Homo sapiens: one gene and its partner. The protein of the gene in region 1 interacts with the protein of each later gene in a biochemical or structural test. Each region holds a gene or a part of one and is shown in the gene's direction. Other genes may lie near its edges.

The links.
Region 2: the proteins of PATJ (region 1) and TANC1 interact in a test that uses a peptide from one of them, tested with the Homo sapiens proteins (2 studies listed by IntAct, with this or other methods).

What each region holds. Positions count from the first base shown.
Region 1 is NC_000001.11:61,737,850-61,745,725, forward strand, and holds the start of PATJ (inaD-like protein), read left to right. Parts: upstream 1-4,630; 5' UTR 4,631-4,706; exon of another isoform or gene 4,707-4,935; intron 4,936-7,876.
Region 2 is NC_000002.12:158,963,581-158,971,826, forward strand, and holds the start of TANC1 (protein TANC1), read left to right. Parts: upstream 1-5,059; 5' UTR 5,060-5,202; intron 5,203-6,047; exon of another isoform or gene 6,048-6,401; intron 6,402-8,246. UniProt on the Homo sapiens protein: May be a scaffold component in the postsynaptic density.

The sequences.
Region 1 (7,876 bases):
CGCCTTGGCCTCCTAAAGTGTTGGGATTACAGGCATGAGCCACCGTGCCTGGCCAAAAAAAGACACTCTTGAGGATTCTCAGATATAAACGTTTTCAGGTACAGCTAAACCTTGTTTAAAAATTTATTGGATAAATTTTTAAAATTTTAAATTCCAAATGAGAGCCAAAAAAAAAGTTTACATTAAATTAACACAGACCGAGTATAGTGGCTCACGCCTGTAATCGCAGCATTTTGGGAGGCCGAGGCACTTTGGGAGCACTTTGGGAGCCCTTGAGCCCAGGAGTTTGAGACCAGTCTGGACAACATAGAGAGGCCTTGTCTCTAAATATAAAAAATTTAAAAAATTAGCTGGGCATGGTGGTGCATGTTTGTAGTCCCAGCTTCTCAGGAGGCTAACATGGGGGAATGGCTTGGGCCCAGGAGTTCAAGGCTGCAGTGAGTTATGATCTCACCACTGCTCTCCAGCCTGGACAACAGAGTGGGACCCTGTCTCAATTATTTATTTATTTTTCTTTTTTTTTTTTGAGATGGAGTCTTGCTCTGTTGCCCAGGCAGGAGTGCAGTGGCATGATCTCGGCTCACTGCAACCTCCGCCTCTTGGGTTCAAGCAATTCTCCTGCCTCAGCCTCCTGAGTAGCTGGGACTACAGGTGTGTGCCACCACGCCTGGGTTATTATTGTATTTTTAGTGGGTTTTCCCCACGTTGATCAGGCTGGTCTTGAACTCCTGACCTCCGGTGATATACCCGCCTCGGCCTCCCAAAGTGCTGGGATTACATTCATGAGTCACTACACCTGGCCTGAAAAAATTAATTAGTTAATTAACAACACAAAGGAAGAAGGGTGGTTGGTGAGGTAAAATTAATTAACAGCACAGAAATGTAGAGAAAATCAGGTTAAAACTGATAGAGATGATGTTTCCTGGGGTGGCCAGGGAGGCAGCTTTTCAGAAGGGGTTAGACTTGAGTCTAGCCCTAGAAGGAGGGTAGGGCTTACAGAACATTCCAGGCAGGGGAAAGTGGGTAGGTAACGAACAGAAAAGCCATTGGTGTTCCATGGATATGGAATAGATAAATTTGCTCAGAGTAAGATCCTCCAGAGGTGAAGTGGAGATTAGGTTGAAGAGTCAGCAAGAAGGGGCCGGGCACAGTGGCTCACGCCTGTAATCCCAGCACTTTGGGGAGGCCAAGGCAGGCAGATTACCTGAGGTCAGGAGTCTGAGACCAGCCTGGCCAACATGGTGAAACCCCGTCTCTACTAAAAATACAAAAATTAGCCAGGTGTGGTGGCAGGCGCCTGTAATCCCAGCTACTCAGGAGGCTGAGGCAGGAGAATCGCTTGACCCCGGGAGGTGGAGGTTGCAGTGAGCTGAGATCACGCCATAGCACTCCAGCCTGGAATGCGAGACTTTGTCTCAAAAAAAAAAAAAAAGAAAAGAAAAGAGTCAGCAAGCAGGGGAGAGTTTGAAGGGCCTTGAATAGCAAGAAAAGGAGTTTGGACTTGGTTTCATGGTCAACTTAAAGTTACATAGCTTTTTGAAAATAGGGGAATATGTTCACAACATCATTTAATATTAAAGTAAGAAGAGGCAGGCTGGGTGTGGTGGCTCATGCCTGTTATCCCAGCACTTTGGGTGGCCGAGGTGGGTGGATCACCTGAGGTTAGGAGTTTGAGACTAGCCTGGCCAACATGGTGAAACCCATTTCTACTAAAAATACAAAAATTAGCCAGGTGTGGTGGCGGGCGCCTGTAATCTCAGCTACTCAGGAGGCTGAGGCAGGAGAATTGCTGGAACCTGGGAGGCGGAGGTTCCAGTTGCACTCCAGGGTAGGGCCAACAACAGCGAGACTCTGTCTAAATAAATAAATAAGCCAGTCATGATGGTGCATGCCTATAGTCCCAGCTACTCGGGAGGCTGCAGTGGGAGGATCGCTTGAGCCTAGGAATTTGAGGCTGCCATGATTGCACCACTGTGCACCAGCCTGGGTGACAGAGTGAGACCTTGTCTCAAAAAAAATTAATTAATTAAATAAATACAAAATAAAATAAGAGGAGGCCAGGCATGGTGGCTCATGCCTGTAATCCCAGCACTTTGGGAGGCTGAGGCAGGAGGATGGCTTGAGGCCAGGAGTTTGAGAGTAGCTTGGGCAACATAGTGAGACCATCTCTCTACAATAAATAAATAAAGAAGAGGTGCAATAGCCAGGTGTAGTGGTGGTGCCTATAATCTCAGCTTTTCAAGAAGGATATTAAGGTGGAAGGATTGCTTGAGTCCAGGAGTTTGAGGCCAGCCTAGGTAACATAGTGAGATTCAATTTCAATTTAAAAAATAAATAAATAAAAATAAATTTAAAAAGAAGAGACCAATGTTTGCAAGGTGATTCTTTGAGATAATTGGTCTCCACCTTTCTTTTTTTTCCTATTTAATTTTTATTATAGGTTCAGAGCTACATGCACAGGTTTGTAGGCCAGGTGCAGTGGCTCACGCCTGTAATCCCAGCACTTTTGGAGGCTGAGGCGGGTGGATCACGAGGTCAGGAGTTTGAGACCAGCCTGGCCAACGTGGTGAAACCCCATGTCTACTAAAAATACAAAAAATTAGCCGGGTGTGGTGGCTGGCACCTGTAATCCCAGCTACTCAGGAGGCTGAGGCAGGAGAATGGCTTGAACAGGGAGGCAGAGGTTGCAGTGAGCTGACTGTGCCACTGCACTCCAGCCTGGGCAACAGAGCGAGACTCTGTCTCAAAACAACAACAACAACAAAAAAACCAGGTTTGTTACATAGACAAATTGTAGGCCATGGGGTTTGATATACAGATTATTTCATCACCCAGGCAATAAGTATAGTACCTGATAGGTAGTTTTTCAATCCTCTCCCTTTTCCCACTCAATCTCCAACTTTATTTTGCCCCCGACTTGGAAAGCCTTTCCTTCTCCATTTTACCTAAATTAATCTCAGACTCTGGTTAAGACCTGTTTAAGTTCTAACCCATGCTTTCAAAAAACATAATAGATCTCTTCATTTTCTGAGGTCTGGCTTCCATCTGGCAATTTGCCTGTTATTTCCCTCAGTAGTTTGTTAGTTCCTAAAAAGCAGAAACCATGCTGATATTGTGTGTCTTCTTACCATGACTAACAAGTGTTACATTTCTTTTAAAACAAGGAAGCAAACTACAAAGCACCAAGTGCATGATCTTAATTTTATTTATTTATTTATTTATTTGAGATGGAGTCTTGCTCTGTCGCCCAGGCTGGTCTTGAACCCCTGGGCTCAAGTGATCCTCCGACTTCAGCCCCACAGAGTAGCTGGGACTACAAGCTCACGGCACCACTCCGGGCTAATTGTTGTTGTTGTTGTTGTTGTTGTTTTTGAGGCGGGGTCTCTCTCTGTCACCCAGGCTGGAGTGCAGTGGCAGGATCTTGGCTCACTGCAACCTCTGCCTCCTGGGTTCAAGTGATTCTCCTGCCTCAGCCTCCTGCGTAGAGGGGACTACGCATCCACCACACCCGGCTAATTTTTGTATTTGTAGTAGAGACGGGGTTTCATCATATTGGTCAGGCTGGTCTCGAACTCCTGACCTCGGGTGATCCACCCGCCTCGGCCTTCCAAAGTACTGGGATTACAAGCGTGAGCCACCGCGCCCCGCCTGAAAGTCTTTATGTTGTAGTTGTTTTGTATCTATTCCTCATCTTCCTGGGGACAGGGATACCATTTTACACATCTTCCCACAATCAATCACAGTGTTTAACAATTACTGTATGTACTCTATGAATAAGATACCTGAAGATTGATTCTCTTTATCGTTAATGTGTGGACTGTATCAGGCAAAGTAAAACCCCTATCATCAAAAGCCTAAAGTTATTAAAGGGAGTGGAAGAAGGCTATCGGGACATATTTTTCTCGAAGGTGTGACATCACAAATAAAAGAAAATTAACGTATAGTGAAATCATCACTGTAGTTAGAGTCAAAATGCCTTGCCTGTGTTCCAAACTTTGGGCCAGTCAACCTACAGGGTGCACGGTTTCCTCATTAGTTTCTTCAGAGAGTAAATGAGACATTGCATAAGCTAGCACCTAGCATACAGCAGGCAAATACTGCTGGATTTCTTTCTTCCACTAAATGAGAAGAAAATAATGACTCCCACATTTACACGTTTTAGAATATTTTATTTTGCGTCAGCGAATAGAGAAAACAAAGGAGGGATGAGAGAACAGGAAAGGAAAGGGGCAAAAAGACAAAGTGTTAAGCGGATTGACCCAACGCTTTCATCGATATCCTCCTCAATTTCCTTGATCTTGGGTCTCGCTCTACACGCAGGCCTCCAACCACACCGGTCTGTCCGGATCTCCCTCCCCGTCAGTGGCGGCTGTCCCCACCACGCGCGGTCTGATCCGCCACCCCGCCCCCACAGCCCACTTTTCCCAGGCCCTTGGCCATCCCGCGCCCGGTAGGAATTCACCTGCACGTAAACAGCCAGGGCAACCGTCCTCCCTCCTTGGAGCCCGCCTCCCGCGGCCCCGGGCTCCCTCCCCCGCCCCCTGCGCCACCCCGGTGCCCCGCCCCGGGCGGGGAGAGTCGGGGCGAGGGGAGGGCCTGCCAGGTGAGGCGCGGTCACCCTGGGCCTCTCACTTCCGCCCAGGTGAGGCAGGGCCGACACCGAGCCCGCCCGACCCGGGCTCCCACCTGCTCCTCCAGCGCACCAGGTAAAGCGTGAGGTCCCGGCTGTGCAGTGCGCGCTCGCCCCTGGGTGTCCCCGCGCCTGGAGGCCGGCCGGGGGCAGCTCCCTCGGGGCTTCCCGGGCCTGCCTGCCCTGCCCCCGCGCTCTCCCCGCCCGCCCGCCTGGAGTGGGTGGGAGCCGGAGGTGGAGGGCGCCGCCGGGCGCTCAGAGGGGCCGCGGCGAGGATGGGGCGCCCGCGGCGTGCGTCCGCGCTGACCCGGGAGGCGGGGCGGGGGCGCCGTCCTCCTGCGTCGGGCCCGGGTGACCCCACGGTGGTCCCCGCCCCGCCGCGCAGGGCTCGCCGAGGCCGCGGGCAGGGAGGGGCGCCGCCCCGCCTCCCCAGGCCTTTCGGGCCTCGAATCTCGGCCCACTGGTATTCGGGGGTGGCACGGATCCTATTTTGCGCCCAGATCGGTGCCCCTGTTTCGCTCCCAGAGCTGGGCGGAGTCTTTCCCTCCATCGGTGGCCGTGGAAGGAGGGAACGGGGTGAGGGGACAAAGAGGAGGGGGTGCTCAGAGCCGGGCTGAGGGGGCGACTTGGGCCCGGCCGCGTCGCGGCGCCTGGTCATCCCGTAGCGGAGGTTCCCAAGCCAGCGGTCAGGCCCTGGGCTCTGCCAGCCTTGCTGCGTAGATGGGGAGGTTCTGTCGGAAAGTGCTTCCAGCCTTAGGGGAAATTCCTGGACTCCTGCTTTTAAATCAAGCTCAGGAAAGCATTTTCAGATCACTCCCACTCTCCAAAGCGCCCCAGCCGTCCCGCACGCAGGCCGAATTAAGTGAACACCCCTTCACTTGGCACTTTGTCATATTTCCAAGTGGCTCTTGTCACTTTGAATTCCAGTTGGTTGTTTACTGGCTTGCCTCTGCCATTTAGAGGGTGCCCCTTTCAGGGCCTTATTTTTCGACTGCATTTAGGGTCTGGCTATTGGTAGGTGCGCGACAAGTGTTTCTTAAAGGAAGGCAGAAGCCTTTGGAAACCCAGAAGGACAATGTCGGTTCCACTGAGGATGATACTACCACATTCTGGGCTAAATTCCTATTGGCTGCAAATTAATTTGCACACATCTATTTGAAAGGAGTGGAGGCAGGGGCAGCGGTTAAAAACTTAAATCTGTTTGCAGCATTAGAAAATGTTAGGTGAGATTGAGCCTTTTAGCTAAAGTGAGCTTTGATGTTTTTAGGGCCCCTAATGGCCTTTAAGATGTTAACAATAACAACAACAACAAAACACTCCAAATGTGTTGAATTTATTTGGGAATGAGAAATGAGCGTTATAGCCCGAGGTGCACAGGCCTGGCAAGCCATATATGCATGGAAGAGGGGAGGGTAAAAGGAAACTTTTATTGGCAAAGTAAGTGCAGATAAGCTGCGTGAAAACAGAGTTTATTGGTTTTGCAGACTGAAAGCCAGAGTTGGCCATTGTTGAAGATGCCATTACTGGGCAGGTGTTATGGAGAGCATCTTATCAGGCCTGGCAACCTGCCTCATGCCTGTTATCTCAGCTACTTAGGAGGCTTAGGCAGGAGGATCGCTTGAGGCCAAGAGTTGGAGACCAGCCTGAGCAACATGGCTGTCTTTACAGAAAAAGCTTTTTAAATAGTCAGGTGTGTCGGGAGGTTGAGGCAGGGGAATTGCTTGAGCCCAGGAGATGGAGGCTGTGGTGAGTGGTGTTTGCACCACTACACTCCAGCCTGGGTGACAGAGCAAGAACCCTGTCTCAAAAAAAAAAAAAAAAAAAAAAGGAAAAAAGATTATCTTATCTTATCTTATCTGAATTACTGCATTCCTAAAGAAAGAATTTCTTGGGTGGTTATTTTAGTTCCTTCTTGAGACCGATCTTTATCTCAGACTTGCAAGCATGAGCTTTCTCCCTCAGGCTCTCTAGTTTGTTTGGGTTTGACAAAAAGTGATTTTGACCTGGTATCTGCAACTTTCACAAAGATAATAACAAAGTTAATAAATATGGAAATACTTATGGATAGAACTTATAAAATGAGTTCTGAAGAGATTTGCCCTTACTAGTCCAGATCCTATTAGGAGTAAGAGAAAAAACACAAACTTTTTCCTCTGCTCTCACACCACTACAGTCAACACTGAGGACTTCTGTGACCAAATAAATGTGTGGGCCCATCAGTTCTGCATCAAGCAATAGCTGAGCATCTAACAGTTCGATTCTGAAACTATTTACCTGGGGATAGTGTCAGATCCCATAAGACTGCCCTCACTTCTGATGCCAATCACAAGTCCTAGATTGTTTTACCCCGGCTTCTGACTAACCACCTATAAATTGGGAATCCCATAACTCCCTCCTCTGGGTTGGTTAACTTGCTAGAGCAGCTCACGGAACTCAAGAAAACACTTATTTAGGTTTATTACTAGTTTATTATTAAGAATATTACAGAGGATACAAGAGGAAGAGATGCACAGGGTGAGGTATGAGAAGGGGCATGCCACCCTCCAGGAACCTCCATGTGTTCAGATATTGAGAAGCTCTCCCTACCCCATCTTCTTGGGCTTTTTATGGAGACTTCATTGAGTAGACATAATTGAAGCATGGGGTAGGGAAACCCAGCAATGCCTATCTGTTCAGATTTTTCTTGGCCTCTCTCTGTAGCATTCCTTCCTCCAGGGTATGGGCAGGACCCCTTCTTATGGGGGTCTTATGACCTACAATCAGACAAGGGAGATCAGATAATTTTTTTAAATATTTATTTATTTATTTATTTTGAGACAGAGTCTTGCTCCGCTGCCCAGGCTGGAGTGCAGTGGGTGATCTCAGCTCACTGCAACCTCCACTTCCCGGGTTCAAGTGATTGTCCTGCCTCAGACTCCTGAGTAGCTGGGATTACAGACATGTGCCACCATACCTGGCTAATTTTTGTATTTTTAGTAGAGACAGGGTTTTACCATATTGGCCAGGCTGGTCTCGAACTCCTGACCTCAAGTGATCCACCTGTCTTGGCCTCCCAAAGTGCTGGGATTACAGGCGTGAGTCACTGCACCTAGCCAAAATTATTTTACTTTATTTTATTTTAATTAATTAATTTATTTATTTGGAGACGGAGTCTTGCTCTGTTGCCCAGGCTGGAGTGCAATGGCGCTGTCTTGGCTCACTACAACCTCTGCCTCCCAGGGTCAAGCGCTTCTCTTGCCTCAGCTT
Region 2 (8,246 bases), on another chromosome or scaffold:
AATCAAAAATGTTCAGATCTTTAATAGTTAGACAGATAGGACTTCTAATTGTTGTATTAAAAACTTCTAAATGCACGAATCTTGTTTTATGCACCCTTAGGCTTGGAAGTTACTGCTGTCTCTTATATGTGGCCCTTTAGTGGACAAACCTCTTCAATTTTATCAAGTTGATTTTCTTCATCATCCACAATATCAACATTCCTCATCTCTTTCTGGATTAAGTTGTCTGATCATCCAGAGACAAACAGCAAACTGATTTTTAAACAAAACCAAAATTGCTATTTTGGCTAGGTTTTCCATATTTTTGTCCCCCCATCTCCCACATCTCATCCCCTTTAAACCAAATCTTTTAGTAGGTGCTATTTTCTGATTTGCATTTCTTCAAATAAATATGCAACTACAAAGTAGTTTTGATTAGTGCTTGGTCTTACGAAAGTATTTCAGGGGTTCAAGTTCGTAATCCCATTGGTATTTATCAGTGTTATTTCACAGAATTGAAAAGATTGTCACTAATTAATAATATAAATAAGATTGTACTGGCAGTTGCAAAGAATCTCAGCGAGAATTTTTTTAAAGAAAATATTTCCTTTACATTAATATATTATGTAAGAATTTTCACATGTTGATTTGCATAGAGTTGTGCCTGTGTTAGACATACACTACACTTTTTCCTCTACAGTAACACAGGAGAAAATATATCTCTGTAAATGACTCCTGACTGCGACAAGACCTGCCAATTTACCCTCGGATAAGTCTCTGAGAGCTTAATTGGAGTTATTACCTACTACTAAATCATCTTTAAGTCACTCTTCCTTAAGAGCACAAATATAGGCATTCTGGACTGCTCTGATCAAACCTTTAGGTTGTTATTCAAGCCAAAGTGGCCCCAGGTAACAGGGAGAGGAAAACATCTAACTGTCTACTAAATAAAAACTAACTTTGGTAGAGCATTTTCTAATTAATTGTTTTCAACCTTTTTAAAATTTAATCTTCCCAACACATCTGTGAGGCTGGGATCCTATACCATTCTCCTTTTTTCATAGATTAGGAACCTGGGGCTCAAAAAGGCTAAACGAATTGCCAGTCACCACAAACAGTAAGTACCAGTCAGAATTGGCATTTAGATATTATGACTCCATTTCCAGTGCCTTTTCTAGCACAACTTGCTGAAAAGAGGGAAGGTGGAGAACATTAAAATGCATCTGTTATACTCAAAGTTAAGAACACATTTCTTTTTAAACTGTCTTAGCCAGACTCAATGACATTTCTCAGAGGGGTTACTATCTGATTGCCTTACCTACCTTTCCTGAACAAGGGAATTTCCTGTTTCCCCCTATAGGGTATTTCACTATCAGAAGATTAATGAAAGTCTATATTTAAAATCTGAATCTAAATTTATAAATGTAGATTTCTAAATCTAAATTTATATTTAAAATACTACTCAGATGGCATGCCGTCTTAAAGCAGGTTCTCCCAGGACTTTATTTATTCTCATATTCTTATAAGGAAATATGAACCTCTGACTCTATCTCTCTGTTTCTTCTCTCAGTGGATTACATATCGGTTTAAACAATTCACTGCCTCACCCATATTGGATGAGTTTCTATAATGTTGGCAGGCCATGTGTTAGACCTGTGGAGGGGTTTATATGTCCCATGACTCCTTAACTTTAACTGTCTGGCTAACTGTGCACAGCTACGGCTTTCTATATTCCTGGATGAATGTCTGCCATTAGCTTGCAGCTGACCATGGTGTTGGCATCCGTGTATGGCCATGGATCGTTACACACGCTGGGACTGTGGTGTAGGGGTATGTAATTTCATTGCTTTTCCCACCTGATTTCTAACTACACCCAATTTATTTTATTATTTTCAATGTCTTTAATAAAAATTATTTTCTTCCCCAAAATGTTAAAAGGGAGAGGAAGAATGAGTGGACCAAAGGAGAATGGATTTTGTAAACATTAAAAGATGCCCCAAAGAAGAAGTGTTTGTGTGCTGAATTATTTTGAGTCTAGATTTCCTTAAATTTTGCCTTAAAAATTGACTTAAAATTTTTTTTAGCCCTGTTACAGTTTTTGGATGTAATTAACTACAGTGTTTTAAACATTTTACTTCTCACTATGTATTCTATACTACACATACCATAATAAACACTGGCCATGATCCCAACTTAGACTTGATTTAAAATAGAAGTACTTACGAATCCAAGCAGGAAAAAAAAGCATTCTAACACTCACAAGGCACATTCTTTTCTCACGCTTTCCTCAGCCTATTCCCCTGGGCAGTAAATTGTATAGTAAAATGACCAGTTTATTATTTGCTGTTTTCTTTCACTCTGCTGAGAAAAGCTACATTGCTGGCAAACTGACAGAAAATTTAAAAATGGAATCCAGTATTTTGTATGTCTGTTTAGGGAATGTGTGCAGCATAGACTATTCACGTGATCTATATTTCTCTTTTTTTGTCCTAACTGGTATCAACAGAAATGTAATGAATGAGCTTCTTAAAGTAGATGGGATAAGCAGAGATATCCTCAGAAAAGCAAGAGATGATTCTTGCTTTCCTTTTCCTAAAAATTCAAACAAACCATTAACTAACAACTAACTAAAAACGCTTTTATTTTTTAAGGGAAAAGCAGATTTTAAAAAAATTAAAATTCATTTTTTAATATGTGCTCAGCTAATACTTCACTTATTAAGATATTTAGAAAATGTTCACATTTTTTTCTTACAAAACGGATCTTAATGGAAGCCCCCTGTTTGCCTCACCCATGAATTTTCATTTTTTTTTTTTTACTCTTTTTGGCCTTGTCTTTTATAAATGTACTATTTTCACCCACAGCTTAAGAGAGCTTCTTTGATGTTCTTAGTACAACATAGTGTATGTAATGTCAGCTGTTTAAAGCTGGAGATCAGATTGTGCATAATAACATATGTAGTTTGGATTATATAAACACTACAGGAAGAAGGGGAGACAGGGCCTTTCTGTGTGCACATTTCAGATTGCTAGCTGTATGCCTGTTTAGAATGTTAAATACTCCTAACTAGGCAGTGATGAAGTTACTTCTTTAGTGACTGTGACTTCTGAAACTATAAAGACAAAACTTTTTCAACTAAAAATAATTTAAAGATGATGTCAGTAATGAACATATTTATGTGATTTTCTACTTGCTACTTAAGGAGCTTTGAGAGTAGAGGGAAAAAAATTGCACTGCCTTCAAAGCCCTATTTAACTAAGCAATTTCATCAAAAATTTGGAAATACAGCTGAGAAGAGCCAAAACCAGAAAAATGTGGTACAAATGATAAATTTCATCCATTATACCTTTCTCCCATTATAAAGAAGTCTGGAGCAGGAAATCTTACCAGTCTATTTTCTTAGGATTGTTTCTCTTATATTTTAATATTTCAGATTAGTTAGACTGCTTGGAGTTTTTGTCTTTTGTTTGCATCATTCTTTTATCATTAAGGTTGCTGTCTGGCTTTTTTGTCTGTTGAAAGATTTCGTTTCAAGATAAATTAAATAAAACATTACCATATTTTTCAGCAATGAAACATTTCAGATGGAGAAAGAAGTCAATAGTTTTCTGGTTTAAGTTTGTATTTTTATTTTCAATATTCTATCCTGCCTTGTTTCGGGAATACTTCAAGGCCGCTGATGTGTTTACTGCTCAAATATCAACACAGCAGTAATCAGGCCTTTGAAACTATGGGTGAAAAATCCAGTCCATTTCAGTCTTTTTAATTTATGAAAAGAGATTGTGTGGCATTTTGCTTCCTGTCCCTTTTCATAAGAACTTTAAATATGGACACCCCTCCTGCTGGTGTCTTTATATAGGGAAGCTCTGCGTGAGGTTGAAGTTTTTATGAGGAAACTTGTTTAAAACACAATCGTATTTTAAGGCGGGTTTGCCACAGCAAGGTTAGGGGTTACCAATAAATCGGTTTACAGCAACTTCTCTATTCTCTGCTCCAGACACACCAATGGGGTGACCCGTGCACAATTCCCGCTGGCCACACAAGGCAGCGGCAGTTCTAGTTGATCCTTCCTTCGTCAACTAGATCAACGAAGGCTGTCTTAGAGAGCTTCGGGTATTAAGTGAGCAGAGTCCCTTAGGCCAATTTGGCTGCCTGGGATTCCTGGGAGGATCTTGGAGAACCCAGGACACCCGAATCCCTAGTCCCTATCCTGGTTTTTGCTCTGCTGGAGAATAACAAAACATTTTGGGAACTCAGGAGTTTAATTTACTGCCACCAACCGACAAAATAATAGCATCTTTGTGTGTTCTCTCCCCTCCGTCCCTCCCACCTCCTTCCGACAGAAGCACGACGCTGGCCCTCTGTGAATGTAGCGCAGACAGCACGGGCCAGCCCGGAGCGGTCGCAGGAGGCTCCAGACCCGCGGCCCCAGGGACGCCCGGGAAATCACCGGCCCCAGAACGTCCCCCATTCCTTTTGGGAAATAAAAAGACGCAGCCGGTGAGATGCCTTCTTAGACCTTCCAGCTCATTTAGCTGATTCTGGCCCCAGAAAGTGTGTTTGTGTTTGTGTGTAGTTAAGTGAGGCAGAGAAAATCCAAGAAAGCCGCACAAGCCACCCCAAAGCGTCCACGGAAACTCCAGCTCGGTTAATTGCTCCCATATGTCCTCCTCGGCTGTGGTAAAAAAGCAGCGAGGAGGGAAGGCCGGGTCGCTTTATTGATTTTGAAGAGGCTGTAAAAAAGACTATGGCCCATCTCATTTTGGTCCCAGAGGGGCCTAGGCGCAGCCCCGGGGGACCCGGTGCCCAGAGGGATGGTAGGGTGCTTCAGGCCCGGACCTGGCGCCGAGAGGCGGGACAAGGGGACCTCGCGCCCAAGCCCCGCGGAAAGTTCGCGCTCCGCGCTCCAGCCGGTCCCTGGATCCGCCGCAGCCCGGGGCGGGGAGGGGCGCGGGAGGCGCGGCCGGGGCGGGCGCGCGAGAGGAAGGTGCCTTCGGGAACACGCGCAAGGGCGGGGATTCGCGCTGCCAATGAGGCCCCGGTGTGGGCCGAGCAAGGCGGGGGGACGGGCCGGAGCGGAGGCTTTGCTGTGGCAGCTGCTGGAGCGGCGGCCGCCTCGGGAGCCGGAGGAGAGGCAGCCGCGGAGCGCCGAGCTGGCCTCGCCCCGAGGCCCGGCCCTGGGTGTGGGGAACCGCGCTGAGGAGCTGGAAACTTTCCCGGCAGGTAACTCCCGCAGCCCGGACTCCGCCGCGGGCCTGCGAGCGCCCCGGGCATGGCCAGCTGCCAGTGTGCGGAGAGGTCGAGAGGGACCCGGGGTGGAGAGGGTGATGGGAGAAGGGAAAGGCGTGTGGGAAAGTTTCTGGAGCGCCCCCTCCTCCGCCGGGCACACCCGGGAGCTTTCCGGGAATAGGCACAGACATGTTGGGCGCCCCGGGCCTTGGTCTCTCGGCGGCTTTGGGGAGTCCGCACCTTCCTTGCGCGGTTCCCCCGCGCCGGACCGAGCCGGCCTCCCCTGGAACCGGTGTGGTGGGAACCGGGAACGCTTGGGGCACGCTCGAGTTCTGGGACCACCCCCGCCCGGCGCGCCCGCTCGCCCCCTTTCCCGCCTTCTCTGTAGCCCTCGGGCTTGGCAAGGGCCTGGGCTACGCCTGGTACCTGGCGCGGGGGAGGCGGGGGGAGGCGCGCCTGGCACCGCGGGGTCCTGGGCGCCCCCCGGAGTGTTGGGGTGCGCGGGTCGCGAAGTTGCCGAGAGAACTTAAGCCGGAGGCATGGTATTGCCCCAGTCTGGGCTGAAAGTCTATTGCTTTGCTTCCAAGAACACTGCGATTAGCATATCCACACTCCTTTATTGGGGGTGGGGGTGAGTTAGGATTAGACGTTGGGGGTTTTTCTTTAGGGGTGGGGCGCTGAGAAGAGCGGTAATTGTCAAGATTGTGAGCCCCCTTGTTCTTGGATGCAGAGTGGTCATTTTCGGGGGACGATATCAGGGCACTGGCTTCCTGGAGGACTTTGGGGTGCGGGCGCGCAGCGCTGTGGGTGTGCGGGGCTCCCGGCTTTGGCGCGGCGGCTTTCCGGAACGCCTGGCTGGGAAGGAAGCTCTAGGCATTGTGTGGTGTGTTTGCAGACAGAAAGGTCCCTGGACCGGTGTTCTCAAAACTTACTGGACTTATTGTGTAAAGCTCCGGGAGGAAATGTGGCGTTGGCCAGGTAGAAACGCGGCGCTGCGGCCAAGGGGCGGAGGACGCCAGGCTCGGCAACGGCCTTCTCCCAGCCCCCTCCTGCCAGCTCCAGATCCGCGTGCCTCCAGTGTTGGGACCGTTCTCAGTGGCGTTGTTCCCTGCTGGAGTTAACTTGGGAGGTGAGGAGGGAACTTTCATCTTGAACTTGACCCCAGAAGCAGCGTCGTCCGTACAGGTTACAAGGTAAATGGAAGCTGAGTCTTAACGTGGGTTGGACCGCAAACTCTGGCTGGCGCGGAAAGGAAGTTCCTGGTTCAGAATCTTTGAGGAAAGGGCTCAAGATTGCTGAGATCGCTCGCTCTGGAAATGCCAGACACACCAGACTGCAGAAGTTAATGCGTGTTTGGAGGGGTGGGGGTGGGAGAGGAAAGGAGAAACCTGGTTAGTTGGCACAGAGGGCTGGTATTTCTCTGTAGTGGAAATGAAGGGAGTCTGCGTCTCTGCTTTCACCAGATCCGCTACCCTCTTTTTTCCTTCCTTGGTCATCTTTATTCCTGCCAGGCTGGCACTCCTGAGGCAGGGGAGGGGAAGGAGAGGAAAGCAGTTGTGAAGCTTCCTGGGTCAGCCTGGAGGTATTTCAGATCTGCTACTAGGAAGATTCCAGGATTTTAACAGCTGCTTCTTGATTGCTGGGAATGAAGGAGTTTATGAGCGGCTGAGACTACTTCATTATAGAAGTAGTCTGAGTGTTTTACTCATCTAAGCTACTTAAAGACCTCACAAGGGACCTTCCCTAGAGTATGCCAGTTTCTGCAGTTTGTGTCAGCCAGAATGCTTGGTGAGTGTTAGTCAAAAAGCATCATAAATATATCCTGGTGGTTCTGAAATGAAAAGTATGTGGCAGTAAAGGAAGTATGGTATCTGATATCCTTCAGGACTTCCTCCTAGGGTTGTTCCTGTTACCTGCCAAGTGAACTTGGTTCAGGCTTCCGGACTGTTGTGATTTGACAATAAGAGATGGGAAATAGTGTCATCGATTTTAGTGGAAGCAGGAAAAGTCCACAAATAAATTTAAGGTGAGTTTTTATGACCCTGTCTTGCACATGTGGTGCCCCAAACTTAACTTTTTGGCACCAAGCCTTTTGGTTTGAAGTGTTGCTGGAACTTGGAAGCAATGGTTTTCCTGCTTTCTTGGTTTAACCACCAGAATGCCCAAATTATTATAATTTATATCCATCCTTGATCTAAGATATAACTGATTCATAGTCAGCCTTTTTCTGCTTCCCATAACAGCCTGTAGAAAAAAGAACATTTTGTCTCTTTAACCACACACGATTTATTTGGTGCCATAGTAGGTTTTGACACTGGGTGATTGAGGGCATAATTTTAGAGACAATGGAGTTGTCTGGATTAAATCGTCCATTTTTAGGCAACGTTCTCTTCTGAGTTGCTGATTAATTCTTTATTTCTCTGGGAACATTAAAACCAGCATCCCTGAGCCAGTGGAACTATAATCCATATTATAATGACTCCTGCCAGCATAGCTGGAGGTTAACTTTATGTCGTTGTTTCCATTAGACATTTCTAACCTAATTGTAAAGATTTTGTCTCAGTTGGGTTGAGAGTAGGGTTGAGAGTCTCATAGAAAAAGAAATGGCTTTATTTTTATCTTTATGATAAAATAAAGTTTGTGTTACAGGAATACATTTACAGAAGCAAAATAAAGAAGAGTGTTTATATATTTGTGGGGAGGATTTGTTTTAGTGTTTAAAATAGTTTGGTTTTCAACTGTCTCTTAAATGCATATTTCAGTGGTGGAAAAACCAGAACCTCTCCCTGCCCCCTTTCTCCCCACGTTATGAAAGTGTTCACTGTACAAAGAACTCTTAAGCCTTTCTGGGTCTTGGTTTTCTCATTTTTTTCATCCCTAAAATGGGATTACCTTGCATCCCTAAAGTTCTGTGACTCTCCAAAAGTTTGAGAAATGTAGGAATTCTGAAGCCAGTGCTGTAATGTTAGAACACTGCTATGGGGTTTATAAGGGCTTGATTTACACATTTTATCCCTAACCCTTTATTTGAATAAACC